Regions from separate parts of the Homo sapiens genome. Here region 1 is linked to region 2. The links come from fine-mapping of genetic effects on gene expression. A gene starts in region 2. The other region holds a variant in brackets. All regions are shown on one strand. Distances are from middle to middle.

Region 1 (15,273 bases), 41 kb after region 2:
AAGTGCTGGGATTACAGGCGTGAGCCGCCATGCCCAGCCTGTTTGCTGCTTTTTAATTGCCTTTAGCTCAAAATAATTTTTTTTTTTTTAAGAGACAGAGTCTCGCTCTGTTGCCCAGGCTGGAGTGCAGTGGCGCGATCTCGGTTCACTGCAAGCTCTGCCTCCCGGGTTCACGCCATTCTTCTGCCTCAGCCTCCCGAGTAGCTGGGACTACAGGCGCCCACCACCACACCCGGCTAATTTTTTTTATTTTTGGTAGAGACAGGGTTCCACCATCTTAGCCAGGATGGTCTCTATCTCCAGACCTCGTGATCCGCCCACCTCTGCCTCCCAAAGTGCTGGGATTACAGGCATGAGCCACTGCACCCCGCCTAGCTCAAAATAATTCTTATTTCAAAGAGGTGTATTTTGGGGTGACATATTTTGGTTTTCTTCACTGCAATATGACAACCTGGAGGACATTATCTTAAATGAAATAAGCCAATCACAGTGCTTACTGGAATAATTCCATTTATGTGAGGTATCTAAAATAGTCAAACTCATAGAAGCAAGAAGTAGAGAGTGGTTGTCAAAGGCTAAGGGGCTGGGGAAATAGGAAGTTGCCATTCAACTGGTGTAAAGTTTCATTTATACAAGGTGAATAACTTCTAGAGATCTGTACGTCGTGCCTATTGTACACTTAAAAATCTGTTAAGAGGCCAGGCGTGGTGGTTTATCTTATAATCACAGCACTTTAGGAGGCGGAGGTGGGGGTGAAACAGGAGAGTTCCCTGGCTCCCCTTGCAGGACACTCAACAGGGGTGTTGATCTCTGTTCAGCTGCCACAAGCTCAAACCCCTTATAGGAGCGGGAGGATACAGACAGGCAGGTGCAGGAACCAGAGTGAGCGCTTTTGGGCTCTGGCCCCAGGGCAGCTTCTAGGGGTGGTGCTTTGACTCCTGAAGCCCCAGTAGGCATGCTACAGTGCTCTTTTAACTCTGCCATCCACAGATGGCTTAAGTGTTAACCAGCTCAGTGTCCCCTTGGTACCCGGGCCCTTGTCCAGCACCCAGAAAGAATCAGGTTACACACAGACTTGAAGAGTGGTGAATATGGGGGTTTTATTGAGTGGTGGAGGTGGCTCTCAGCAGGATGGATGGGGAGCTGGAACGGGGACGGAGTGGAAAGATGATCTTCCCTTGGAGTTCAGCAGTCCTGTGGCAGAACTCCTCTCCAACTGTCCCCAGCTGGACTCCTCTAGATATTCAGATGCTCCTTCTCTGCCATGCCGTTCTTCAGTTCTTTGGCTCTTCTGCTCATCTCCTCATGGACCCAGGGATTCGGGGTTTATATGGGTACAGGATGTGGGGTGTGGCGGGCCAAGATGCAACATTTGGGCACGAAAACAGGAATGCCTGTTCCCATTTGGGGCCTCGGGTTTCCAGGCTTGAGGGTGGGGCTTTTGGCAGGTAAATAAATCAAACAAAATAAATAACTTTCCAGTATTTCCCCGTCTCCTGTTCATATCAGGAAGATTGCCTGGGTCTATGAGTTTGAGACCAGCTTGGGCAACATAGTGAGACCTCTGTCTCTACAAAAATAAAAATATTAGCTGGGAGTGGTGATGTGTGCCTGTAGTCCCAAGTACTTAAGAGGCAGAGGTGGGAGGATCACTTGAGCCTGGGAGGTCGAGGCTGCAATGAACTGTGGTCATGCCATTGCATTCTACCCTGGGTGACAGAGTGGGATCCTGTCTCAAAAAAAGAAGAAAATCTGTTAAAAGGGTAGATTTCATGTTGTGTTCTTACCAAAATAAAATAAATTTTAAAAACAAGAGGCAATAAAATTTTTTAATTAAAAAGTTAAAATTTATTTTTTTATTTTGAGACAGCATCTCACTCAGTTGCCCAGGCCAGAGTGCAGTGGTGTGATCTCTGCTCACTGCAATAGCTGGGACTACAGACACACACCACCATCCCCTGCTAATTTTTTGTATTTTTTGTAGAGACAGGCTTTTGCCGTGTTGGCCTGGCTGGTCTTGAATTCCTGACCTCAAGTGATCCACCCACCTCGGCCTTTCACGTGCTGAGATTACAAGCATGAGCCACCACGCCTGGCCTAAAATAAATAAATAAATAAATAAAATTGAAAATTTTATTTAAAAAATTTTGGCTGGGCGCAGCAGCTCACACCTGTAATCCCAGCACTTTGGGAGGCCGAGACAGGTGGATTGCATGAGCTCAAGACCAGCCTAGACAACATAGCAAAACCCCATCTCTACAAAAAATACAAAAATTAGGTGGGTATGGTGGCACATGCCTGTGGTCCCAGCTACTTGGGAGGCTGAGGCAAGAGGATTGCCTGAGTCCGGGAAGGTCAAGGCAGCAGTGAGCTGTGATTGTGCCACTGCAAATACCAGCCTGGGCAAGTAAGACCCGTTCTCAAAAAATATATATATATTTTTAAATAAAAATGGCTTGGCCTACAGAGCTTTCATGGCAGATGGAGAGAGCTGGTTTTCAAAATATTCTGTTTTTAAAAAGTACACAAGTGACTGGGCATCACCATGCTCACGCCTGTAATACCAGCACTTTGGGAGGCTGAGGCTGGCGGGTCACCTGAGGTCAGGAGTTCAAGACCAGCCTGACCAACATGGAGAAACCCTGTGTCCACTAAAAATAAAAAATTAGCCAGGTATGGTGGCACATGCCTGTAATCCCAGCTACTCAGGAAGCTGAGGCAGGAGAATCGCTTGAACCCAGGAAGCAGAGGTTGCAGTAAGCCGAGATTGCGCCATTGCACTCCAGCCTGGGCAACAAGAGCGAAACTCTGTCTCAAAAAAAAAAAAATAATAATAATAAGAACACAAGTAACAGATTTCTAATATAAAAATAAATCAAACAGTACATAATGTGATCCTCTGCCTCTCTTCCCCACTTGTGGATGGCACTCTCCCCATGAGTACCCCTAGTGATAACTGCCATCTGTACTCATTAAGACATTTAAAAATGCATAAACGTTTTAAAATGTAGATTCTATTTTTATTCAGGTATGATAAGGCCAACAGATCAGGGGACAATTGCCATTTAAAAGATAGCTTATTACTCCTCGTTCCCAAGAGGAGAGGTCACACCTGCACAGCCACGGGAGAGAACACTGAGGTTGGTCACAGGCAGAGGACAGGAGAACTGTGGTTTTCGAGGGAAGGAATGGGTGAGGCAGGGTAAGGCGGCTAAGCAGGTGGAGGACTAGCTAGTTGGAATAGTGTCAGCTGACTCCTGACTGTAGACTGCACTGAGTTGTCTGATATATGATGTCAGGGTGATTAGGGTAGAGAGATAACGGCCTTGAGTATGAAAGTCCAAAAAAGGAGGGATTTGGTGGTAGGGCTCTAGATTGGTTAGTTTGCATCTCAGGGATCAGCTAATCCCAGGAGGTGTAGTCTCTCCCTGGTCAACAAGGCCCCAAAATGTCAAAGCATCAATATGGAAACTAGAAAATATGGGTAATACCACATAAAAAAATATCTTAGGTTATTTTCCAACTTTTCCTAATCACAAATTATACAGTAATAAAAATCCTTATATAGATTTTTGCATGGGTGTATAATTCTGTAAGATACTTAGAAGTATAATTTCTAGATTAAAGGATTTACATATTTTAAGTATGTAATTTAATAAATTACAATTAAAATTTAATTTAATTCCCCCAAAATGAAACATTTTAACGATCCCAGCAATAGTATATGGAGAGGGTCCTTTTTCTCATACTCTCAGTAATACAGGATTTTATCAGTCTTTTAGTCAACTTGGAGAAAGAATGTTAGCAGTCAGCCACTAACAAAAACTAAGCTAATGTGAAAATGTTAATATCAGACAAAAGAGAATCAAATGCAAAAAGAATTTTAAAAGGCAGAGTGATATTTAATTTTTATGTCACCCTCTACCAAGACAGTTAAATGACAATACGGCTTCATGTGTAATTACACAGTTGCCGATGGCAATTTTACATGGTTTAAATTTAATATCTAATTATATAGCTTCAAAACGTGTAATGCAAAGACTCAAATACAAGGAGAATTTGCTAAATCTGTACTTGTCATAGAAATCTTCAAAATACCTCTTTCAAAGATGGTCAGATCAGGAAGAATAAACAAAGATAAAGAGGATCTGAATTAATATAATTAACAAATTTAGGCCGGGTGTGGAGGCTCACACCTGTAATCCCAGCACTTTGGGAGGCTGAGGTGGGCAGATCACTTGAGGCCAGGAGTTGGAGACCAGCCTGGCCAACATGGAGAAACCCTGTCTCTACTAAAAATAGAAAGACTAGCTGGCCATGGCAGCGGGGGTGCCTGTAATCCCAGCTACTCGGGATGCTGAGGCATGAGAATTGCCTGAACCCAGGAGGCAGAGGTTACAGTGAGCTGAGATTGTGCCACTGCACTCCAGTCTGGGCGACAGAGCAAGACTGTCTCAAAATAATAATAATAATAATAATAATAATGAACAAACTTGACCTACTAGATATAGACAAACAGAATATCACTTTCTTTGAGAATTTCCATGGTGCATTTAGTACCTACCAGAACACACACACGAGCATCTTAGATTAACTGAAAAAGTAAGTTGTCCAAGAATAGTGATTAACCACAGATTAGGTTATATCCTAAGGAAAGTGTCCATAGAAAGGGCAGGATATTTCAAGCAGGCTTTGCAAACAGAAAAGCCAGCCCCAACAAAGAATGCCTCCTATGTGTCTTCTGCTGAGGACTCCCCTTGGACTCCAGAGCCCCTAGGCCCCTGTGTCTTGTCAGCACTCTGCTATTTCAGGGCTAAGGAGCTCAGGCTTCTCAGATGTGGCCTGGGAAACACAGTCTTCTAATCCAGGAGAGTAAGAAGATTTAGGACTGACGTGGGTGCTGTTAGAGAAACCCATCTCCTTGGGTATATGGGAGATACCCCGACTATGCAGTCGCCCCCTTCAAATCTTCCTTGGGGGCCTGATCTGACTGACGTCAGGGGGTGCCTACTCCTTCGAGGCAAGAAGCCTGAACTTTCCTTCCTGTCACTGTGAATACTTGGCCAGGGCTGTGAATGTCACCATTGCTTTTCAGGAAGAAGACATGGCAGACTAGGGCTGCACCTTCTTTATGGGCTCTGTAGGTCTGAAAGAAATCAGATCAGCCTGGGATCCCTCAGCCAACTCTGAAGACAGGATGGGGATCACGCCTGCATGTTAAAGAGATTTCTGCCTTGTTGTGTCTCATGGTAAATAAAAAACCCAGCAAAGAAGGTAAGAACTTTCTGTCTAGCCTAAAGTAGAAATGGGTGAGAACAGGAGGGCGACACTTATGTTTTTACCTAGGAAATAAATACAGAGTTGTTTTGAGACAAAGGTCAAAGACAGCTCCTCTGTTATCTATCAACTCATCCAGATGGGGTCTTTGCTATCTGTGTGATGAGATCTTCAAGTGCTGGGTGACCATTCTGCCCTGGATTTCTTGGGCTCACTTAGTGGACAGATAAACACTTTTTTTTTCCACCTAAGAGACAGAGTCTCACTATGTTGCCCAGACTGGAGTGCAGTGGCTGTTCATAAGTGCAATCATAGCACACTACAGCCTCGAACTCCTGGGCTCAAGCAGTCTTCTCACTTCAGCCTCCTGAGTAGCTGGAACCACAGGCATGCTGCACTACCACCCCTAGCTAATTTTTGTTTTTCATGATAATGTGAGGCATTGATGATGCTAAGTCAAATTCTAGAAGGAGAAGGGGTCTCACCCACGTTGGGTGGATGTACTCATCACCTGGAGAGATGGCTCAGCTTGGGAAATCATCAGGGGGAGAAGACAGCTGGTGATTACCAAAGGTGCTGATTCAACAATCTCGGGCTCCCTCAAGCTC[G/A]TTTTCTGTGGCTGACCTTATGAAGTTTTCACATTTTTAGTTTTTCCCTTGAGAATTATTCTACTTCCCCTTTCTGTTCATTTCCTTTTTTTTTTTTTGAGGTGGAGTCTCGCTCTGTCACCCAGGCTGGAGTGTAGTGGCGAAATCTTGGCTCACTACAACTTCCACCTCCCAGGTTCAAGCGATTCTCCTGCCTCAGCCTCCCAAATAGTGTAGCTGGTATTATAGGCATGTGCCACCATGCCCAGCTAATTTTTGTATTTTTAGTAGAGATAGGATTTCACCATCTTGGCTAGGCTGGTCTCGAACTCCTGAGCTCAGGGGATCCAACCGCCTCAGCCTCCCAAAGTGCTGGGATTACAGGCATGAGCCACGGCACCCAGCCATTTTTCTTATTGATTTCTAGAATGTTCTCTGCTTGTCCGTAGATGACTCCATCTTCTTCTCTTAAGCAGCCATATGGGATACCTATTTAGTCAGAGCCACTTTCTAATTTTTCTTATGTGTAAAAATTTTAGAAAAATATCATTTATTGATTTTTAATTACAAAAGCTGTAATAGAAGTATATAAGTTAAAAATGGAAATCTCTCACCCAACCTCTTTCTCCAGAGGTAATTACTGTTAATAGCTTGGTGTATAGTCTTTCATTTTTATATACTTACTGACTTTTTTTATACAGATGATATCACACTAGGCGTGCTCTTCTGGAATTTGCTTTTCTTCATGTAACAATATATCTTGGGGCCGTTTTCATATGATTACATATCGACTTGCCTTGTTCTTTGTCATGGTGGAATACATTCCATTGTTTTTAAAGCATCATGATGTATTTTGTTGATTCTTTACTGATAATTATTTAAGGTGCTTTTTATCTGAGGAGGAGAAGAACTTTAAGAGATTTTTGAGGATGTCATTTAAGAAAATTCCTTATCTATGTTTTTCATGACGATGACAAACATTTGCAAAGTACTCCTCATATATAACCTCACTTCACACTCCTAACAACCCTGTAATGACGTTACCATTATCCATAAATAACAGAGAAACAGATGAGACCAGGGAGCCCCAAGGCAGGGATCACATGTGCCTTTGCTGTTATAATGGTAGCTAGGTACCCCTTTTCCCCTTCCACATGACATAGGAAAACATATCCTTTTTGTCCTTGGTGACAAAAGGTCACCAAGAGTTAGTTACAACTACCTAATGGGAGACTTCATTTCTTTCATCTCTTGTGGTTGTTCTAAATAGTTTATTGGCCCATGATAGATATCAACTTCCTTACTCTAGGCAATGCTATATTTCTATCTCCAATAAATTCTTTGTAGGTCATCTTATTCTGCCACCATTTTTGAATTTATAAATTCATGAGAAAAAAAGTTGCCTAAGGGCAAAAGAGGATTTATTTAATAAAAATCTTTGACCCAGCAATAATCAGTATCCATCCTGCTGATTCATGCAGCATTGAAATAGTATGCCTTTTACTGCCTCCAAGAACATATTTTTGGTTGTTGATATTTTAAAATAAATATGACATCAGATTCAGTCCATCAACATATATTGAGGTTTTATTGTATAGAAAGCACTTTAAATATATCATTTATGATCCTTGAAGATACATAGATGAGAAAACTGAGTCTCTGAGAGCTTAAGTGCCCAAAATTGAGTGAGAAGGTGAACAAAAATTCTCACCCACATCAAACACTCTTAAATACACAACTTGGCTATGCAGGCAAGTTACCAATGTATCAAAGCAACTTGTGAGTCATTGACAAGCAGAATCATTGCTGAAGTCCCTTCTAGTTCTAAAACTGTGCAAATATTTAGGAGCAGTTTTGTTGGTTTGGACATGATGGCTTCTCACTTTACCCCAAACTCAGATTCTGGTATCATGACATCTCATAGAACTAGGAACCATTTTGCACACAAAAAGAGATCACAGTCTTTTTTCCTCTGGTTGTTTATTCAAAATAAACTAGCCAACATAAGCAAGGTAAGACTTTAATTTTGATTTTCAGAGAAAAAGACAACAACTCTTTGATAATCCCCAGTATCACAACCTTCAAAAATAGCGGAGGAGAGTGGGGTAGAAATGAGGTAGAGAAAAGAGTAAAAGAAGTGGGATTCGCTCTTGATGTTAAGTCAGTACATCTCACATTACCTCCTGAAGAAGAACTAGAGAAAGTGTCATCTTTGTTGTATAAAAAGAAATATGGCATAATGATCCAGCAATCCCACTACACTTTGGGTGTATATCCAAAGGAAGCAAAATCAGTATTTTGAAGAGACAATTGCATACTCATGTTTATTGTAACATTATTCACAATAGCCAAGACATAGAATCAACCTGTATGCCCATCAGTGGATGAATGGATGAAGAAAATGTAGTATATATGTACAGTGGAATACTATTCAGCCATAAAAAGGATGAAATCCTGTTCTGTGTGACAATATGGGTGAACCTGGAGGACATTATGTTAAGTGAAATAAGCCAGGCACAGAAAGACAAATACTGCGTGATCTCACTCATATGTGGGAGCTAAAAAAGTTGAGATCATGGAAGTTGAGCATAGAGTAATGATTACTAGAGACTGGGGAAAATAGAAGGAAGCAGGAGATGAGGAAAGTTGATTAACAGGTACAATGTTACAGTTAGATAGAAGGAATAAGTTCTGGCACTCCATTGTACAGTACCATGACTATATCTAACAATAATGCATTGTATATTTCAAATAGCTAGAAGAGAGAATTTTGAATGTCCTCATAACAAAGAAATAATAAATGTTTAAGGTGATGGATATGCCAATTACTATGCTTTGATCACACAATGTATACATGTATCAGAATATCACATTGTATCCCATAAATATGTATAATTATTATGTGTCAGCAAAAAATAAATAAGGCATAAAGTTTATTCAGTTAATATTTATGGAATCCCTACTACATGTCAGGCACTGTGCTAAATCCTGGGGATAAAATGATGAATTTGCTTACAGTCTTTCTCTGAAGGAACTCACAGTCTAATAGTAGAGAGATACAAGATTAAAGACTGTAATATGGTATTGCAGTGATGGAAATGTGAACAGGATATTCAGGAGCTCAGAGGAGGAGCAGGTCAAGCTGGCTTCTTTAAGGAAGGTGATACTTAAAGTGAGCCTTTAGCAATGAATAAAGTTAGCCAGCTTAAGAGAAGTGGGATAGAAAGAACATTCCAGGTAAGAGCAGAAACACAGAGGTCATGGTAGTTAAAGCACAGAGTTTGAAGAAAGGAGAGAAGAGAGACGAATGTTGGGAACAAGCCCCCCAAAATCTGGCCGTAAACTGGCCCCAAAACTGGCCATAAACAAAATCTCTGCAGCACTGTGACATGTTCATCATGGCCATAACGCCCATGCTGGAAGGTGGTGGGCTTTCCAGAATGAGGGCAGGGAACATCTGGCCCGCCCAGGGCAGAAAACCGCTTAAAGGCATTCTTAGGCCACAAACAATAGCATGAGTGATCTGTGCCTTAAGGACATGCTCCTGCTGCAGTTAACTAGCCCAACTTATTCCTTTAATTCGGCCCATCCCTTCGTTTCCCATAAGGGATACTTTTAGTTAATCGAATATATACAGAAACAATGCTAATGACTGGCTTGCTGGTAATAAATACGTGGGTAAATCTCTGTTCAGGGCTCTCAGCTCTGAAGGCTGTGAGACACCTGATTTCCCACTTCGCACCTCTATATTTCTGTGTGTGTGTCTTTAATTCCTCTAGCACCGCTGGGTTAGGGTCTCCCTGACTGAGCTGGTCTCGGCAGACGAGGCTTTTGGGGAAGATTTGTTGTTGTTGTTGTTGTTTTAGGCAGAGTCTTGCTCTGTCGCCCAGGCTGGAGTGCAGTGGTTACACATCTTGGCTCACTGCAACCTCTGCCTCCCAGGTTCAAGCCATTCTCCTGCCTCAGCCTCCCAAGTAGCTGGGATTACAAGTGTGCACCACCACACCCAGCTAATTCTTTTGTATTTTTAGGAGAGATGAGGTTTCACCATGTTGGCCAGGCTGGTCTCAAGTGATCAGCCCACCTTGGCCTCCCAAAGTGCTGGGATTACAGACATGAGCCACTGCACATGGCCTGGAAGATGGGTTCTGTTTGGAGTCTGAGACACCCCAATCAAAGTGTTTAGCAGGGAGCTGAATATGTGGGGCTGAAGTTTAGGGATCATCTGGGATGGAGACAGAGATCTAAGAGGTAGGAAGTGATAGCTGAAAATGTGAGAGTTAATTAAACCAGCCAGGGAGCATATACCACGTGAGATCAACAGATATTTGAGACTAGAATGCAAATAAAAATCAACATATAAGGGACAGACAGAGGAAAATGAGCTCAAGAAGCAGAGACAGTAAGTAGTCAGGAAGATGGGAGTAAACATAAGAGTTTAGTATCACAGAAGCTCAAGGTGTAGAATTGAAATAAAGGTGTGGCCTGGCCAGGCGCAGTGGCTCACGCCTGTAATCCCAGCACTTTGGGAGGCCGAGGCAAGCGGATCACAAGGTCAGGAGATAGAGACCATCCTGGCTAACACAGCGAAACCCCGTCTCTACTAAAAATGCAAAAACAAAATTAACCGGGAGGCTGAGGGGGTGAGAATGGCGTGAACCCAGGAGGCGGAGCTCGCAGGGAGCCAAGATTGTGCCACTGCACTACTCCAGCCTGGGTGACAGAGAAAGACTCTGTCTCAAAAAAGAAAGAAAGAAAGAAAGAAAGGTGTGGCCTATGGAGACAGATGGCCTTGCTGTTCTGGCAAGGTAAGGACTGAAAAGATGAAGACATTAGAGGCATCAGGAAAGGCTTTGATCAATAGTGAGGATGAAAAAGGTGATTTTGAGAGGAAGTAAAGAGAAAACTGTAGTCTACCCTTGAGATAAATCTGGATGAGAAGACAAGAGAGGTTGGGTGACAGTTAGAGGAATATAGGAGGTCAAGGGAGGAGGAGGTGGCGGATGAATTGCTTTGAGAATGCAAAATAAGAGATTTCAGTATGTTTCTAGACTGAAAGGAAAAGGCAGTGGAAAGGTTGAAAACGGGAGACCTAGGGAATGACAAATGGAGGGAACTCTCAGGGGAGGAACATCTTGTGCACTTAGACTGGAGAGGTGGAGAGGATACTCTCACATGATTCATAGACAATTTGGCCCACCCGATTTAATACTCTGCCTGCATCTCCTATTACAGATTCTCTCTTCATTTTGTCAGCAAACAGCTCACTGTCCTCTGGATCTGCTGCGTCCTGCAGGAGCATTGCGCTTAAACTATGGGAAGCGGCACCTCCACCCAACATCATTTTGCTTTCCAGAATGCAGAGAGAGGTACGTGTTTCCCACTTTCCAAACCAGCTGTGGGTACCACAAAGCCCATATTGCATGGAGAGGGTTGGGGGTTCTGAGGGTAGAAGCAGAAAAACCCTTAAATTTCTCCTCAGGCCAGCTCTTAGAGGTCAGCTTCTCCTCCTTGTGACATGCCCACCAAAATGTCCAGTTGAAGTATATTTGACAGAATTAACATTCGCTCAGGAAGTTAGTGTTGTCCATTGGGGTTGATCCCAAACTACCCAGGTACAAATGAATGAAATAAGGTTGGGCAAAGAGGGGATGAAACACATTCCAGGCAGAGGGTAGAGCACGTCCAAAGGTCATGAGGTGGGAAGAAGGAAGCATGAGCTCCCTCTAGTGGCCAATCTAACAATTTTTTTTTTAAAACAATAGGCCAGGAGTTGTGGGTCACACCTGTAATCCCAGCACTTTAGAAGGCTGAGATGAGAGAATCTCACCTGGGCCCAGGAGTTTGAAACCAGCCTGGACGACAGATCAAGGATCCTATCTCTACAAAAAAAAAATTTTTTTTTTTTGAGGCGGAGTCTTGCTCTGTCGCCCAGGCTGGAGTGCAGTGGCACGATCTCTACTCACTGCAAACTCCTCTTCCTGGGTTCAAGCGATTCTCCTGCCTCAGCCTCCCGAGTAGCTGGGATTTCAGGCGCCCGCGACCACGCCTGGCTAATTTTTGTGTTTTTTGTAGACACTGGGTTTCACCATGTTGACCAGGCTTGTCTTGAACTCTCACTTCAGGTGATCCGCCTGCCTCGGCTTCCCAAAGTGCTGGGATTACAGGCGTGAGCCACCGTGCCCAACCTAAAAAATTTTTTTTTGTTTTTGAGACCGAGTTTCCCTCTGTGGCCCAGGCTGGATTGCAATGGCACAATCTCGGCTCACTGCAACCTCCGCCTCCTGGGTTCAAGCGATTCTCCTGCCTCAGCCTCCCAAGTAGCTGGGATTACAGGCGGGTGCCACCATGCCCGGCTAATTTTTTGAATTTTTAGTAGAGACGGGGCTTCACCATGTTGACCAGGCTGGTCTCGAACTCCTGACCTCAGGTGATCTGCCCGCCTCGGCCTCCCAAAGTGCTGGGATTACAGAAGTGAGCCACCATGCCCAGCAAAAAAAAAAAAAAAAAAATTAATTAGCTGGGTGTGGTGGCGAGCACCTCTGTAGTCCTAGACACTCAGGAGCCTGAGGTGGGAGGATTGCTTGAGCACAGGAGTTCAAGCCTACAGTGAGCTATGATCATGCCACTGCCCTCCAGCCTGGGTGACCGAGTGAAATCATTTCTAATATGGTAGGGATATCAACTGTGATATAAATTGCAAATATTTTTTCCCAGTTTGTCACTTGTTTGGACCAATTTTGGAATTAGCTTCAGCTCAGGGTTTCCTTATCTTGTGAATAACACGAATTCAACCCACACACGCCACAGGCTGAGACTTTCTATCTCACTGAGTTCTAGGTCAGCTCAGCTCCTGCTACCACAGGGGCCGGTAGGCAGAGATTTATTAGATCACGCAAGGTACAGAAACTTCCCCAGCTCCTGCCTTTTCACAGACAGTCCAGTTACCACTCCCTGCCATGCACAGAACCCAGGAACTCACTCTCATCCCCATACAGGTGTTAAACCCCAGCTCCTGAGACATGTGTCTGGTTGAGATTCCCCTGGGGCCTGCCTGACTTCAGTGCCTCTAACTGCCTTTGGCTATGGGTTCCGTCTTCATTTCTGGCACCCGGAGATCTCCCTTCAATGCTTTTGATTTCAACTATTGGTTAAAAAGAAATTTAGCTTATTTTATGCAGCTTTTCTTAATGTGTTGGAGTGTGAGGGAGTCCTACATCTGCTTAAGCATGCCATTTCTTATTGGAAGTCGATATTAGGCTCTCTATTTTCCTTAAAGGGATGTCATAATTCATTAAGTTTTTATTGCACCTTTTGGCAAGCTTATACTTCCATTACAGAAAGGTACTTCTTCCTAGAGGCATCATTTTTTTCCTTTAAATCAGTGTTGTATATAGAGACATAAATATTCTTGACAAAGATAATAAAAATAAGAGGGTAACCATCAAAAAAATTCTCTGTTCTATCTTTCTTAAATAATTTACCTATTCTCCCATACCCTACTGTGCATTGCCTTGGTTCACAATTTTCTCACAGTGTTGTTATATGTAGAGTTTTTACAGCCCAGGTGTATTTGTAACTTGTACCCTAATAATTTAGTTTACACATGGCCCAAGTAAGAGGGGCCTATACATTTTTGCATTGTGCTATTAAAAATACATGATGGGATAAAGGATATTAAAAGATCCTGCACTTCCCAGAGCCCATCTCAATTGAAAGCAAGCCAGCTCCCCACCACACCCTACCAGATAGTCAACCGGGAGGAAGAAAAAAAGAGGGAGAATGAAAGGTGTTGCCCACTTCTGCTGCCTGAGTAGCCAAAGCAAGACTGAGGATGTAATACGTATGTCTCATCATTGGCAGCACTGGCCATAGAATGCTCAGGGCAAGGTGTTAGCAGACAACATTGATGTCCATGATCTTCTTCAGTGGTCCTTAAACTTTAGCACAAGTATGAATTATGTATGGAGCTTGTTAAACCTTCAGATTCCTTCCTGGATTCCAGCGGTAGAGATTCTGATGTTACAGGTCCAGGGTGAGGTGTAGCAACCTGCATGTTTACCAGGAATCTCTAAAGAATCTGTAGCACCAGCCCTGGACCTTTCATTCACTATTCTCTTTTGTGTGTGAGTGTGTGTGTGTGTGTGTGTGTCAGAGTCTCTAGCCCAGGCTAAAGTGCAGTGGTACGATCTCGGCTCACTGCAACCTCTGCCTCCCAGGTTCAAATGATTCTCCTACCTCAGGCTCCCAAGTAGCTGGGATTACAGATGCCTGCCACCATGCCCAGCTAATTTTTGTATTTTTAGTAGAGATGAGGTTTCACCATATTGGCCAGGCTGGTCTTGAACTCCTCACCTCAGGTGATCCACCAGCCTCAGCCTCCCAAAGTGTTAGGATTATAGGTGTGAGCCACCACGCCCAGCCTCATTCACTATTCTGAACATGGTTTTACAGAAGTCAGTCAGTGGGGTTCAACCTCATCGCTTACTATTTAGTGAGTGCCTTTGAGAAATACTAGTAGTATGAATTTTTTTCATAGGAAATCAAATTTATCTTTGTTTAAGTTCCTCCCAGCTTCTCTTTTCCCATGTCACCATCATCTTTCCTCTTAGGGAAATCAGCAAGAATTCTATTATCTGTCTAATGCAAACGAAACATATTAAATCAATCTGTCTACTCTTTATGAGGTTGACCTGAGTCAGCCTGCAGGATTTCTAATCCAGCCTGCAGGATTTCTAATCCAGCTTTATCCACAAATAGTCCATTCATCACCAGCAGTGTATCTAAGCCTTGGAGCTTAAAAAGAATCTAGTTATGTGGACAGCTGTTCCCTTCTCTGGCAACAATACTTGACCACACAGGTCCTAAACCTTATATAAAGAATGAAACTCCACACCCTAACCTGCCCTACCTGGTCACCTAGCACAGGTCCTGGCAAAAATGAGAGGCCCAGTGGCCATGTGGGGGACTGCATGGTCAGTGCTGTCTATCTTATGACGGGGGTGCTTAAAGCCTGTAGGGATATCATGGAACTGGGGATGGCAAGCATGGGAGCTGGGACACAGTTGCTACCCCCTGACATCGTATGATGCATTCATTTGAGTATTCGTTTATTGTTTGCTTTTCCTAGTCTTCATCTGGCCCCGCCCCTTTTCCAGATGAGGACATTGAGGCCCCAGATGACTTGTCTGAAACCACAGAGCTTGTCAGGGCAGTTCTAGGTCTAGATCCCAGGTGTCCTGACATCCAGTCTATTGTCACAATATCAAAATGTCCACCCCACCCCCGCATTATAACCTGTCAGGGATGCTGCATCCTTGCAATCTCATGAGTTTACATCTCCTTCTCGGAATCCTGGCAGTCCAACCTTTTCATCCCTATACAGAAATGTTTTCATCAATACATGGGA
Region 2 (15,273 bases):
CAAATGCAAATAAAAGCAGAGAACACAGCTAATTTTGTACTCCTTAAATAGCATAAGCTTATATTTGTATAGACCATTTCTTAGGTAGTAAACTTATTTCCTTCTGTAGATTCTGCTTTCATGTTTTGTCAGTCCAATCCCAGTGTGAAGATGGTTGAATAAAACTATCATTTATCCACATGATAGAGTATTATGCAGCCATTATTATAATAAGCATTTCCCATTGTAAACATTTCCAGTGTTTACAATGTCTTTTGTTCTTTTCAAAACAGGCTGTTCCTGTTCTTTTCTGCCAAGGCAGGCAGATCACCTTGTTCTTTTCCAGCCCAGGCTGGAGAGCACTGGAACAATCTCAGCTCACTGCAACCTCTGCCTCCTGGATTCAAGCAATTCTCCTGCCTCAGCCTCCTGAGTAGCTGGGACTACAGGTGCCCGCCACCACACCCAGCTGATTTTTGTATTTTTAGTAGAGACAGGGCTTCACCATGTTGGCCAAGCTGGTCTCGAACTCCTGACCTCAAGTGATCCACCCTTCTCAGCCTCCCAAAGTGCTGGGATTATAGGCGTGAGCCACTGTACCTGGCCACTATTATTTTCAAAAGCAGAGTATAAAATGATAAAGAAGCCTGGGCAACATGGTGAGACCTTGTAAAAATTAGCCAGGTGTGATGGTGCATGCTTGCCATACCAGCTACTCAGGAGGCTGAAGCAGGAGGATCGTTTGAGTGCCGGAGGTCAAGGCTGCAGTGAGTAAAGTTCAAGCCTCTGTAGTTTAGCCTGGGTGACAGAGCGAGACTCTGTCTCTAAATAAATAAAATGATCAAGTGGTTTTAAGACAATTTCTTTACACATTTAATCTCTGAAATTGAGATGTTTAAAAATGTTTGCAGCCAGACAACAGTCTTGATGTAGTTGTCATTGCCTGCACATTCACAAACCTGGTCTGCTATTTTCACTTGACATCTGCTAACATGAAGCAGGGACCAACATCAAAATTTGCAGAATGGGAATTAGTAGCCTTTATGAAAATTCCAGAAAAAAACTGGAACTTTTAAAAAATTCCAAACTCTTTATCGACATGTAAAGAAGAGTACAGGTACCATCAAGTGTACTTAAACTCAATGAATTTTCACAAGCTGAATACATTCCTGTAACCAGCACTCAGATTAAGAAACATTACAAACACCTTGAAACCTCCTTCGTGAGTGGAGAACTTTTAAGAAATGAGGCATCACTAAGACTTTTATTTTTTCTTTCAGAGACTGGGTCTTGCTCTGTCACCTAGGCCAGAGTGCAGTGGTGTAATCAGAACCCACTGCAGCCTTGAACTCCTGGGCTCCAGAGATCCTCCACAGGCCCAGGCCAGAATGCCTAGCTATTAATCATTTTTTAAAATTTATTTTTAATAGAGACAGGGTCTCGCGATGTTGCCCAGGTTGGTCTCAAATTTCTGACCTCAAGTGATCCTCCCACCTTGGCCTCCCAAAGTGCAGGGATTACAGGTGGGAGCCACTATGTCTGGCCAGCACTAAGATTCTTTTTTTTTCTTTTTTTTTTTTTTTTGAGACGGAGTCTCACTCTGTCACCCAGGCTGGAATGCAGTGACACGATCTCGGGTCACTGGGATTACAGGCGCACACCACCATGCCCGGCTAATTTTTTGTATTTTTAGTAGAGACGGTTTCACCATGTTGGCCAGGCTAGTCTCAAACTCCTGACCACCTCTAGTGATCCACCGTCCTCGGCCTCCCAAAGTGCTGGGATTACAGGTGTGAGCCACCACATCCAGCCAAGATTCTTAATGGCACAGAAAAGTAGTGTGGTGTGGAAAAACATGGGTATCTGTAGTCAAATGGTGATTCAGGAGAATCTAATTCAGAATGCAAAGAAGCTTAAGCAATAGCTTAATTTATTTCACTTTTTAAAAACATAGAAGAGTAGATATGTGATTTTCAAATAATTTTGACAAAAAACTTAAGAAAACTCTTTCAATACATACACATTTTTAAATTCTAGTAAGACAGCGTATCATAGTTTAAATGGCAGTGAATTTTTCTTCAAGATACATAAAATAATGGTGCTTCGTATAACTACAATTTCATAAATAAAATATGCATATGAAAGTAGTTGCTAGGTTTGGGTGATGGGAATATAACTGATTGGATTTTTTCCTTTACATTTAAAAAAATTTTTTTACAGCTCATGGCCATGAACTCCTTTACATTTTAAATATTTTGTAATGTTGCTTATCAAACATTTCTACTAAAAATTTTTTTAATCTAAAATACTTCTAGTTCCATCTTCGTAAGATCCAATTTTGTTGTACTTGCTATTCCTAATATCTATGTTACCATCAGAGGTGTTTTTAAAAGAAATTTGGCCAAGGAGGAAAAGAAAATTAAGAACAAAATGGAAACCCTAATTCTGGGAAATGTTACAAAAGGGGAAGTTCAAAAGAATTACATGGAAACTAAGAATAAATGATGTTCAACAGAACATCTTGTTTTAAGGATACTTAAATCTTTTTAAATCTTTTAAACATTTTATCATTTTGTGATTTTTAAAAAACATACATATAGAAAATAATGAAACTTGTTCATCTCCAAGTTTTATTCAGTGTTAATATTTTGCTTTTTTAAAAACTTAAAAACTAGAACGTTAAGAGTATAATTATGTCTCAGCCATTTCCCCGCCTCTTCTCAGGGATAACCCTTATCTAGAAGTTGATGAACATTAAGAGTATAACTATGTCCCACTCAGCCATTTCCCACCCCCTTCTCAGGGATAATCCTTATCCAGAGGTTGATGCCTATCATTCCTGCAGTTTTTTCTTTCCCTTGTATATTTGTATGTATATATAAATTTTTACATAAGCAGTATCCTATAAATTCTTTTGCTATGTAACTCAACATTAGATTCTTGATAGATGGAGATTCATTTTAATTGTTGTATAGTTTCCATTGTTTATTCATACATCCACAATTTATCATTCTACCAAAAAGCAGTTAGAAAAAGTTTTCCACTTTTTTTGCTATTTAAAAACCTTGCAGGCTGGGCACAGTGGCTCACGCCTATATCCCAACACTTTGGGAGGCTGAGGCAGGCAGATCACCTGAGGTCAAGAGTTTGAGATCAGCCTGGCCAACATGGTGAGACCCTGCTCTACTAAGAAATACAAAAATTAACTAGGCATGGTGGCACATCCCAGATACTTGGGAGGCTGAGGCAGGAGAATCACTTGAAGGCAGGAGGGGGAGGTTGCAGTGAGCTGAGATCACACCACTGCACTCCAGCCTGGGTGACAGAGTGAGACTCCCTCTCAAAAAAAGTAACTAACTAATTAATTTAATTAAAACCTTGCTGCAGTAAGCATCTTTGAACATGTCTTCTAGGGTTCATGGTCTTAGAGTTTTTTCTTTAAACAAAGTTTAGATAGAAAACTGAAAATGGGCTGGGCACAGTGGCTCACGCCTGTAATCCCAGCACTTTGGGAGGCCAAGGCAGGCGGATCACTTGAGATCAGGAGTTTGAGACCAGCCTGGCCAACATGGTGAAACCCTGTCTCTACTAAAAATGCAAAAAAATTAGCCAGGTGTGGTGGTGCGCATCTGTAATCCCAGCTACTCAGGAGGCTGAGGCAGGAGAATTGCTTGAACTTGGGAGGCAGAGGTTGAGTGAGCTGAGATCACGCTACGGCACTCCAGCCTGGGCGACAGAGCAAGATTTTGTCTCAAAAAAAGAAAAAAGAAATCCAGAAAACTGAAAATGAAATCACTGGGTTTGTAGGGTCTGCAATTCTTCAACTTTACTAGGCAATACTGAATTAACACTATATTCTCGTCAGTAACTCATGTAAGTTTGTATCTTACTACATCCATGTCAACAAGATGTTATTAGACTTTGAAACTTAAGACAACCCTTTGTTTATGAAATGGTATCATGGTTTAATTTGCATTTCATTGATTACTAGAGAGGTTGAAATAACTTCACATTTTTATGTTCATTTGGGTTTTCCTCTTTTTATAGCCTTTTGTTTTCCTTTTTTTTTTTTAGTAATAAAAACATAGGAGATCTTTACGCATTCTAGATACTAATTCTTTATCAATTACCTATGTTGCAGATATCTCCACAGATAAACAATGCGATATCTATGATAAACTAAGTTCTCATGTATACTTTGGGCCTAGGATTTTCAAAACCATTTCTGGATCCTTTTTAACAGTCCTTGCTCTAGCTTCTCTCTTTCCTCTCATATTTGACTATAAGCAGCAAGAAGCCAGGTAGCAACTTCAACATTTTGCTTGGAGATCTAGCTAGAGTACCTAGTTCCTTAGGTACATTTTTCTGTGTTCTGCATTCCTCTAGGTGATCATGTTAAACATTCTGGCACTACATAACAAAGGAACCTCTTACTTCCAGTTTCCAATAACATTCTCACTTCTGAAGTGGCTAGTGCTGGCAGTCTCCTTCAAGACCATCAGACTGTTTCTTTCTTAGGATGGTTTGTTTCTCAAGGGATTTCTACTAATCATCAGACTTCTACTAATCATCAGTCTGTTAGGAACTTTAGGCTCTCACTAACATTCTGCTCAAAATTATTACAATTTCTCCCTACTACCAGTTCCAAAGCAATACATTTTTAGGCATGTGTTATGGTAGCACTACAGTTACGTTCCCAAACAAATCTATATTAATGATCTGTTTGTCACATACCAAATTACCTCAAAACTTAGTGGCATAAAGTGATAAACATTATTTCACAGTTTCTTTTTTTTGCGGGGGGGGACAGTCTCACTGTCACCCAGGCTGGAGTACAGTGGTGCGATCTGGGCTCACTGCAACCTCCATCTCCTGGGTTCAAGCAATTCTCCTGCCTCAGCCTCCCGAGTAGCTAGGATTACAGGCACCCGCCACCACGCCCAGCTAATTTTTATATTTTTAGTAGAGACGGAGTTTCACCATGTTGGTCAGGCTGGTCTCAAACTCCTGACCTCCAGTGATCTGCCCGCCTCGGCCTCCCAAAGTGCTGGGATTACAGATGTGAGACACCATGCCCGGCCTGCTTCACAGTTTCTATGGGTTAGGAATTTGGGGGTGGCTTAGCTGAGGCAGGAAGGTCCACTTCCACCATGGCTCACTCAGATGACTTGACAAGAAGCCTCAGTTCCTCTCTGGCTCTTGGTAGAAGCTCAGTTCCTCAACAAAGGGACTTTCTTTTTTCTTTTTTTTCAATTTTATTTACTTCTTTTTTGGAGACAGGGTCTCACTTTGTCATTTAGGCTGGAGTACAGTGGCGTGATCATAGTTCACTGCAGCCTCAAATTCCTGGGCTCAAGTAATCCTCCTACCTCAGCCTACCAAGTAGCTGGGACTAAAGATACATGCCCCCATGCCCGGCTAATTTATTTTTATTTGTTTGTAGAGATGGGGTCTCACTGTTGCCCAGGCTGGTCTCCAATTCCTGGGCTCAAGCAGTCCTCCTGCCTGACTCTCCAAGTGCTGAGATTTGTGTCCAGCCACAAAGGGACATTTTCATAGGGCTTCCTCAGGACATGACAATGGGCTTCCTATAGTGAGCAATTCAAGAGAGCAAGGAGAAACCCACAGTGTCTTTTGTGACCTAGTCTTGGAAGTCAACCACCAGCAATTCTGATTCTATTCATTAAACCAAGTGACCTCAGATGATCAGCCAGCCAACGTGCTGGGATGACAGGCGTGAACCACCATGTCTGGCAAGAAATTTTGTAATTCCTTTAAGTGTTATCCTTAAAAACAAGTGATTGATTATAAAAGTTGTATTTCTTCATCCTAAAATTGGTAAAAAATAAAAAAAAAATGTGTTTAGTTTCTACTATGCATTTAGTTTTTTTTTTTTTTTTTTTTTTTTTTTTTTTTTTTTTTTTTTTTTTTGAGACAAAGTTTTGCTCTTGTCACTCAGGCTAGAGTGCATTGGCACAATCTCGGCTCACTGCAACCTCTGCCTCCCAGGTTCAAGAGGTTCTCCTGTTCAGCCTCCCAAGTAGCTGGGATTACACCACCACGCCCGGCTAATTTTTGTATTTTTAGTAGAGACAGGGTTTCACCATGTTGGCCAGGCTGGTCTCAAACTTCTGACCTCAGGTGATCCACCCGCCTCAGCCCCCCAAACTGCTGGGATTACAAGCCTAAGCCACCATGCCCGGCCCTTTCATTTAGTTTCTACTATTCATGTACACATGTACCCTGTTTTACCCACAGACAACTGTGCTAACCGTTAAGAATGTCCCAGCCTTACTAAGATTTTCCTAAGTTTGTCTCCCAGACATTGGGAACTCAAAGGTGAAGAAACTTAGGTGTGAAGGTGGATTGTGGATTCAGACCTCCTTACTTGGAGGCCAGTGCAGAGACACACCAGCAGAGTAACCTCGGGTACATGGCTTCACCTCTCCAAGCCTCACACTCCTCATCAGTAAAGCGAGGATTAGTGGAACCTACCTGTTGGCTTGTTTTGATGATTAAATGAGATAATGTCCGCGAAAAATATTTAGCAGATAAATGTTCACTAAATTTTGAGCTTTAAAAAAATGTTTTACCAGCCAGGCGCGGTGGCTCACGCCTGTAATCCCAGCACTTTGGGAGGCTGAGGCCGGTGGATCACCTTAGGTCAGGAATTCGAGACTAGTCTGGCCAACATGGTGAAACCCTGTCCCTACCAAAAATACAAAAATTAGCCAGGTATGGTGGTGGACGCCTGTAATCCCAGCTACTTGAGAGGCTGAGGCAGGAGAATCGCTTGAACCCAGGAGGCGGAGTTGGCAGTGAGCGGATATCTCGCCGCCGCACTCCAGCCTGGGCAATAGAGTGAGACTACATCTCAAACAAACAAACAAACAAGCAAACAAAGTTTAACTGAAAAGTCTTTCCTGACACCTTTTCGCTACTGAAAATCTTACAGCCCCTCCCGGCCGCAGCCTACACTCCTTCGGCCCAAGCAGGTGCGCTGGAACCGGCAGTTGGTGAGAAGCCGGCTGCCGGCAGCCCCAACCCTTAGCGGCCCCGCGGTCAGGGACCTCCAGGCCCGATGGAGAGTCGGGGCGGGCTAGTGGATGCGCGGCGGGGACGGGAGGTGTCGCCGCTCCGGCTTGCCGGTGACAGGGGCGGGCGGGTCGTGCGCGGGCCCCACCTCCAGCGATCGCAGCCCAGCCCCAGCTCCTCCTCCTCCACGGCTTACCCGGGCTCCGACAGCGGCTGCAGGTCTCCAAGTTGCGGCCGCTGGAGCCCGAGCCATGCGGACCGCGGACCGGGAGGCGCGCCCGGGGCTTCCGTCCCTGCTGCTGCTGCTGCTGGCCGGGGCCGGGCTGTCAGCCGCCTCGCCCCCAGCAGCGCCGCGCTTCAACGTGAGCCTGGACTCGGTCCCCGAGCTGCGCTGGCTGCCCGTGCTGCGGCACTACGACTTGGACTTGGTGCGCGCCGCGATGGCGCAAGTCATCGGGTGAGCTGGGGCCCTGGACGGGGTCTGCGGGGACACCGGCCCTGCGGGTCGGAGTCAAACGCGCGCTGCTCAGAGTGCTTTAAACGGGGACGCTTTACTCCCCGCCACCCTTGGAGAACTGGTTTTGGCTGCCGCCCTGAGCAGCGTCCGGGTTGGGGAGAATCCAGCGCGGCAGGTTCGGCTTTCAAGTTCGGTGTCACCCGTGGCACGCCAGTCCTTGAGCCATTCCGGGTCAGCGTGGCGCGCGAGTTGTCGCCCGGGCTGCATAGCTACCAAGGAGGGGCAACCCGCGCCTTCCTTGCGGGCCTCGCGGGCCTTCCAAGCTTGCCCCTTTGGGACCAGCCTCACTCGCCCTCCCCATTCGGAGTTTTCTTACCCGCCGCCTTCCCCCCGCCCCCTTCCCCCCACTCCCGGGAGGCTGCAGATTGAGTGACGCCGCGCCTGGGCGGTCCACTGACTGGGGAGCAGTGGCCCTGAGACCTCACGCCCTAAGGATGTAGCCCCGCTCGCAGTGCACACGCAGTCGCACGCCGCCGACCTCTGAGCGGGTCAGACGCCCTTGTGCTTTTTGTTTCTAGGGACAGAGTCCCCAAGTGGGTGCACGTGTTAATCGGAAAAGTGGTCCTGGAGCTGGAGCGCTTCCTGCCCCAGCCCTTCACCGGCGAGATCCGCGGCATGTGTGACTTCATGAACCTCAGCCTGGCGGACTGCCTTCTGGTCAACCTGGCCTACGAGTCCTCCGTGTGAGTGCCCCAAGCCCGCGCGGAGTAACGCGGGGCTTGCGGGGGCCCCCGACACAGACTAGCGGGAGGAGACATATTTTCCGTGTGATAAAAACAGGGCGGTGCCTGCTTGCCTAGAAACCTCCAGCGCTTCCTCTTTGCCTCTCTGGGTAAATCTGAGCTGCACATCGTAGGCTTCGAGAGGGAAAGCAGATTCTCCGATTCAACACTAAACTTTCCCTCTACGTGTAGCCCCGGGTTTTCTCTTCCCCAATCCAGGTAGCGTACTTTTAAAATTCTGCTCAAAGGCCGGGCGCGTTGGCTCACACCTGTAATCCCAGCACTTTGGGAGGCCAAGGTGGGCAGATCACGAGGTTAGGAGTTCGAGATCAGCCTGGCCAACATAGTGAAACCCCGTCTCTACGAAAAACACAAAAAATTAGCCAGGCGTGGTGGTGGGCGCCTGTAATCCCAGCTACTTAGGAGGTTGAGGCAGGAGAATCACTTGAACCCGGGAGGCGGAGGTTGCAGCGAGCCGCGATCGCGCCACTGCACACCAGCCCTGGCGACAGTGCGAGACTCTGTCTCAAAAAAAAAAAAAAAAAAATTCTGCTCAAAACGTACTTTTCCAGGAAGTTTTTGAAACTAAGCCTCCTCTCATCTGGACCCTTTAGTTAACTCAGTGGCCTTCCAGCTCTATACTGGCAGTGGCTCATCTCTGCCCTTATTTGTCGCCCTGCATTTATCCTTTCATGTGTGTCGTGGCTGAAGTGTCTGTGTCCACCAGGGCTGGGGCGACAGGGAACACTGCTCTAATAGGGCCAGCCAGTGTTTGGACCGGGAAGTGGGCATGATAAAATGTGCATCCAGGCTGGGCGCGGTGGCTCACGCCTGTAATCCCAGCACTTTGGGAGGCCGAGGCGGGTGAATCACCTGAGGTCAGGAGTTCAAGACCAGCCTGGCCAACATGGTGAAACCCCGTCTCTACTAATAATACAAAAAAATTACCAGGGCCTGGTGGCGGGCACCTGTGAATCCCAGCTACTTGGGAGGCCGAGGCAGGAGAATCACTTGAACCCAGGAGGCAGAGGTTGCAGTGAGCCAAGATGGCACCATTGCACTCTGCAGCCTGGGCGACAAAGCGAGATTCCATATCAAAGAAAAAAAGTGCACCCAGAAGTGAAAGCAACATGGAGTGTGTGGTTGATCCCAGGCAAAGTGCAGGGGACCACTAAAGGTTTATGGGCTCAGTAATAGGCCCTGGAATAAAGAGAGGTTTTGACTTGGTTTCTTCCTTCAATACTTATTGTTTTGCCAGCAGACTAGCTTCATCTCGTAACCTCTTGTACATACTTAGAGCTTCTTGCTGCCTAAAGATGATGGGGGTAGAAAAGATCTTGGAATAATGAAACTTTACTGGCCCAGGCATTTTCCCAGAACACCTAGGCAGAGTAAGCTAAAAAGCACTGGGACTGCCTTCCTCTTCAGGAAATGCTTTCAGGCACAGAAAAGACACAGGCCTGCTAAATAACATGCTTTTCAGTTGAACTAAGTTATTATAATTTTACCACCTCCCTCTCCTACCTCCAACTTTTTCCTATTTTTAACTTACAGCTTTCTCAATGAAAAATCACGAATCATTTTTACCCTCATCTGTTGGAGTCACCATATTCAAACACATTAAAGCAAAAGTTCTAGTAAAAACATTCTAACTTTTGGATTTGATACTAAGGTATTTATTGAATTGCCTAATAGCACCATTCAATTCACTAGCATTAACAAAGGAAATGCTTTCTTCTCATGTTGGAAGTAAGCCTTCTTGAATTAGAATAATACTAGCTACCCTTTATTGAGCCTACTGGGTGCCAGGCACTTCATGAACACAGTCCCGTGGGGAAGATGGTATCATCTGTTTTGTGATGTGGAAACCAAGCCTCAGTGGGGCCACCTTGCTGGAAGTCAGGTGGCTGGTGAGTGCTAAAAGCATGGGAATCTCCAGTTCGCTGCAGTGCCTTTCAAAGCAGAGCCTGTTTCCTCATTTGTCTCCCATGCTTGTGCACTGCTGCATCACACTACAACATTTGGGCCTGAGATGGAAGTATTGTTATCTTGCCAATTTTGAAAAATCGCCTCTGAGAGAGATCCCACAAACTTTGCTTTAGTACTTCCCATGTCTTACCAGTCCCCTCCCTGACCTGAACTCTTTGAAGTTAAGCTCAGAAACCTTGGAGGGTGGCCGGCCACAGTGGCTCACGCCTGCATTGCCAGCATTTTGGGAGGCTGAGGTGGATGGATCTCTTGAGCCCAGGAGTTCGAGACCAGCCTGGGCAACATGGTAAAACCTTGTCTCTACAAAAAATACCACAAAATTAGCCGGATGTGGAGGCTTGCGCCTGTGGTCCCAGATACTCAGGAGGCTGAAGTGGGAGGATCGCTTCAGCCCGGGAAGTCACGGCTGCAGTGAGCCGACATTGCACCACTGCACTCCAGCCTGGGTGACAGAGACTCAAAATAAATAAATAAATAAATAAATAACAGAAACCTTGGAGGGAATTAAAACTGACCAAGTTTCCGTCTTTATTTTATTTTATTTATTTATGTTTGAGACGGAGTCTCACTCTGTTACTCAGGCTGGAGTGTAGTGGCACGATCTTGGCTCATCGCAACCTCCGCCTCCCTGGTTCAAGCGATTTTCCTGCCTCAGCCCCCCAGATAGCTGGGACAACAGGTGTGCGCCACCATGCCCGGCTAATTTTTGTATTTTTAGTAGAGATGAGGTTTCACTATGTTGGCCAGGCTGGTCTCAAACTCCTGACCTCATGATTCACCCACCTTGGCCTCCCAAAGTGCTGGGATTACAGGCATGAGCCACTGTGCCCTTGCCCAGCCCAAGTTTCCATCTTAAAACAAACAAACAAAAAGTAACACTTTTTTCCCCAATTATAAAAGTAACATGTAATCGTTGTAGAAAATCAGTAAATGTAGAAAAGTAAAAAAACAAAGCTAACCACCATCCTGTTATTAAAAAATGACCAGAAAAACCCTTCAGGATATTTTCTCTCAGTTTTGTTCATGTGGATATACATATTTTTCCCTCTGGTATTGGACATACTGTATATAAATATTTTTTCATGTACAGTTAAATATTCTCAGAGAATATGGATAGATACTTAACAAGCCTCCTCCTCTTTTTCTCACAATACTTCTGTTCATAGAGATTCCCCCTTTTTTAAAATTATGATCTCTGTGCAAGGAGCTGGAGAGAGAAAGGAAAAGTGCCAAGTCCCTTAAGAGCCAGCCATTTTCCCAAGGGGACAAAATGAAACATTTGTGAAACAATGGTTTAGTGTTACTTTATTTGCTCTGAGGAATTCATATATGGAGAGGTGAGCTTGAGCTGGCTTTGAATCATGTGTTAAATAGAATACATGCTGCCATGCAGAGGAAAAAGCAGAGTTCAGAGGTGTCCTGAGCCCAGGATGGGTTAGTTTCACTTCAGATTTAGACTGAGGATGAAATTCTCACTTACTATGCTTATGATGCCCTCCATGTGTGCTAAGGGTAAAGATCCTAGAAACACTGAATGAACACAGATGAGTTGTATCCAGTTGTGTTTTTCATCTTGAATTGTTAATCTATATTCTTATACAAGCATTATAGCACATATATCAGTTATAAGGAAGAAAAACTTTTACTTTGAGGATTTGTTTTACAAATGAAAAACTCCTTTTCCTTTTTTTTCTTATTTGTCTTATTCATTCATGTTGGACTTTTCCCTTTTCTCAGGTTCTGCACCAGTATTGTGGCTCAAGACTCCAGAGGCCACATTTACCATGGTCGGAATTTGGATTATCCTTTTGGGAATGTCTTACGCAAGCTGACAGTGGATGTGCAATTCTTAAAGAATGGGCAGGTATAATCCGTACCATATAAGATAAAAAATCAGAAAGATTTGCAAACTCAAGTTAGCAGTCATTTGGATGGCCTGCTAACTTAAGTGTGTTATCAGTGTAAGACACAAAAAAATCACACCCCTGGAAAAACAAAGCCAGAAGAGAGGTTTGCATCAATTATGCTTATAGGAAGGACGGTCATTTATTATTTATTATTCAGTGTCTACTTAAAGAGGTCACCCAGTTTTCCATAGGGAAATCTCTTTTAGAGAGTGATCAATCATCCACTTATGCAGAGTCAGCTCTTTCCTCTGCTTTCCCATGCCCAGGCTGCTTCTGGAATATGGAGGGGCTGGGTAGTGCAATAACTAGAAACACCCAACTTTGGGATCTGACAGTCCCAGGTTTAAATCTTGATTCTATCAATTACTGTACTTCCTTTGTGAACCTGAGAAATTACTCATTCCCTAATTTTGCAGACTACAGCTCATGGAGGCTCATAACTACTTTACTGCGATAGTTATAAATGTTAAATGAAGTAGTCTATGTAAAGTTGTAGCCAAATAATAAATGGTCCTTCATTCTGCAAGTGTGATTGACCCACACCACTTTCTTGTGTATGATCTTTAAAAAATTATACTTAGATCTTTTGTTTATAGCATGGTCCCTTTAAAACTATAATCTAGTGTGTGCTGTTGTCAACTGTGTAAACTTTTAGAGAGACAGAATTAATCAATGTTCATTGAGTACGCAAAGCATGTTTTGCTGTAAAACAGAATACAGAGTGCAAAAGCCAGATTTTGGCTGTAAGGACAAGGACTATATTCCCTTTGTTCTTTGCATTTAGGGGTTGATTCACAAATACTAAAAACTCATTTACTAACTACTCAGTCATCTGCTTTTACAAACACTTTTTTTCATAAAAAATTCAAACAGTACAGAAATATTTAAAGTAAAAGTTTCTCCTTTCCAGTCCCATTTCTTTACTTTGCCACTATTAACAATTTGATTTCTAGCTGAATTACTTTAAAAATGATTTTAAGTGGTAACGATAATATAAATGCATAATAAATTCTCAAAGGAAATCTGCTAAATATTAAGTTATTACTGAATGAAGGATAATATTATTTATTATTTATTCATGTTTTTTCTCCATTGTTCTATAATGAGCTAATACTCTTAATAAAGAGACAAAGGAATAAATGCAATGAAAATAAATTATTTCAGCTGCTCTGAAACTCACTCTAATAGTTGTTGCTTCATTTGTTTTTGTTTTTCCTGGAGTTCCCATGAAATAATCTATAGAGAAATAGTCTGTAGAGGTAGTTTTACTCTCAGTACTCAGGTGACTGTTACTGAATATAGACAGTTTACACTTGGGTATTGCTTTTCTATGGAGGACTCATGGCCAAGAAATTGTTTTATGAAATTAAGAACAGGTTATCCACAAAATAATTCATCTCTCATTCTTGTCTAGTGTTTGTAATCTTAAAAGTATTTTTGGCTGGGCGCGGTGGCTCACGCCTGTAATCCCAACACTTTGGGAGGCCGAGGCAGGCGAATCACGAGGTCAGGAGTTCAAGACCAGCCTGGCCAATGTGGTGAAACCCCGTCTCTACTAAAACTACAAAAAAAAAAAAAAAAAATTAGCTGGGCGTGTGGGTGGGTGTCTGTAATCCCAGCTACTTGGGAGGCTGAGGCAGGGGAATCGCTTGAACCTGGGAGGCGGAGGTTGCAGTGAGCTGAGATCGCACCACTGCACTCTAGCCCAGTGACAGAGTGAGACTCCATCTCAACAACAACAACAAAAGTATTATCATACACAGGACCTCATTCGATCCCCCCAGCAGCCCTGTGAAGCAGGCATAAGTCAACATTTTAATCTTTACTTTCTAGATGAGGGGGCCCAGCTTCACAGAGACTGACTTGCCCCGAATCACAAGGCCTCTAGAGACATGGCAGAGGTAGGGCCAGAACCCAGGCGTTAGGCCTACTGATAGTTTTTGTTTACAGCCTTAATTAGGCTGTAAATTATTATTATTATTATTATTATTATTATTATTATTATTATTATTACTACTACTATTGTTTTTATTTTTGAGACAGAGTCTCGCTCTATCACCCAGGCTGGAGTGCAGTGGCGCGATCTCGGCTCACTGCAACCTCTGCCTCCCATGTTCAAGCAATTCTCCTGCCTCAGCCTCCCAAGTAGCTGGGACTATAGGAGGGTGCCACCACACCCGGCTAATTTTTGTATTTTTAGCAGAGATGGGGTTTCACTATGTTGGCTGGTCTTGAACTCCTGAGCTCAGATAATCCACCCGCCTCGGCCTCCCAAAGTGCTGGGATTACAGGTTTGAGCCACCGCACCAGGCACCAGGCTGTAACTTAAAATTCCCTGCTAAGGGTTTGTTTATGTTAACTGACTAGGCAGAAACAACTGGGAAGTACAAACAGAAGTAAAGACAGATTTTCAGAGCTGCAAGATAAAATATCTTACAAATTATATCTCAAAATTATTTATAATTATGTATCGTAATTGAAAACTACGATGTGACTTTTGATCTCATAACTTCAATTTTCTCAGCCCTCCAAGAGTGACCCTGACGATCACGGTGTCACGCAAATGAGGTGGCCATATAATTACTTTTTATTTTCCATATAATTACATTTGAGTAGTAAGGAAGACTTATTTCTGCTTTACCACCATGCGTGGAGATGAGACATTCATGGAGGTCCTCAGTAAGTCTGAGGGCTGAGGTCATTTATAAAGCTAAGGACACTGCATTCTCCCTTGTAATTCAGCCACCTTAAATTATTTTTACAAGCAGATAAGGTAAAAATAAATAATTAAATGAAAAACATTACTGACCTAATTTTTCTAAGGAAAATATCAATCTAGGACTATCTATTTCTTAAAACATAATGGTATTAGTTAACTTTTATTGAACAGTATGAGTCAGATACTGTTTTAAGTACTTTTTTTTTTTTTTTTTGAGACAGAGTCTTGTTCTGTCACAGGCTGGAGTGCAATGGTGCAATCTTGGCTCACGGCAACCTCTACCTCCTGGGTTCAAGCGATTCTCCTGCCTTAGCCTCCCGAGTAGCTGGGACCACAGGTGCGTGCCACCACACCCAGCTAATTTTTGTATTTTTGGTAGAGTTGGAGTTTCACCGTGTTGGCCAG

The links.
Region 1: its variant is fine-mapped to the expression of NAAA in lymphoblastoid cells (TwinsUK, PIP 0.95).

The regions. Positions count from the first base shown.
Region 1 is chr4:75,892,231-75,907,503 of GRCh38, reverse strand. PPEF2 (protein phosphatase with EF-hand domain 2) reads left to right here and starts at 5,052. Exons shown (of 17, transcript NM_006239.3): 1 at 5,052-5,274; 2 at 11,121-11,233. The coding sequence starts at 11,179. The variant G/A (reference allele first, on the strand shown) is at 5,886.
Region 2 is chr4:75,932,942-75,948,214 of GRCh38, reverse strand. It overlaps NAAA (N-acylethanolamine acid amidase), which reads left to right and starts at 7,202. Exons shown (of 11, transcript NM_014435.4): 1 at 7,202-7,471; 2 at 8,050-8,214; 3 at 11,980-12,106. The coding sequence starts at 7,266. RefSeq lists silencers at 6,980-7,449, 7,850-7,919.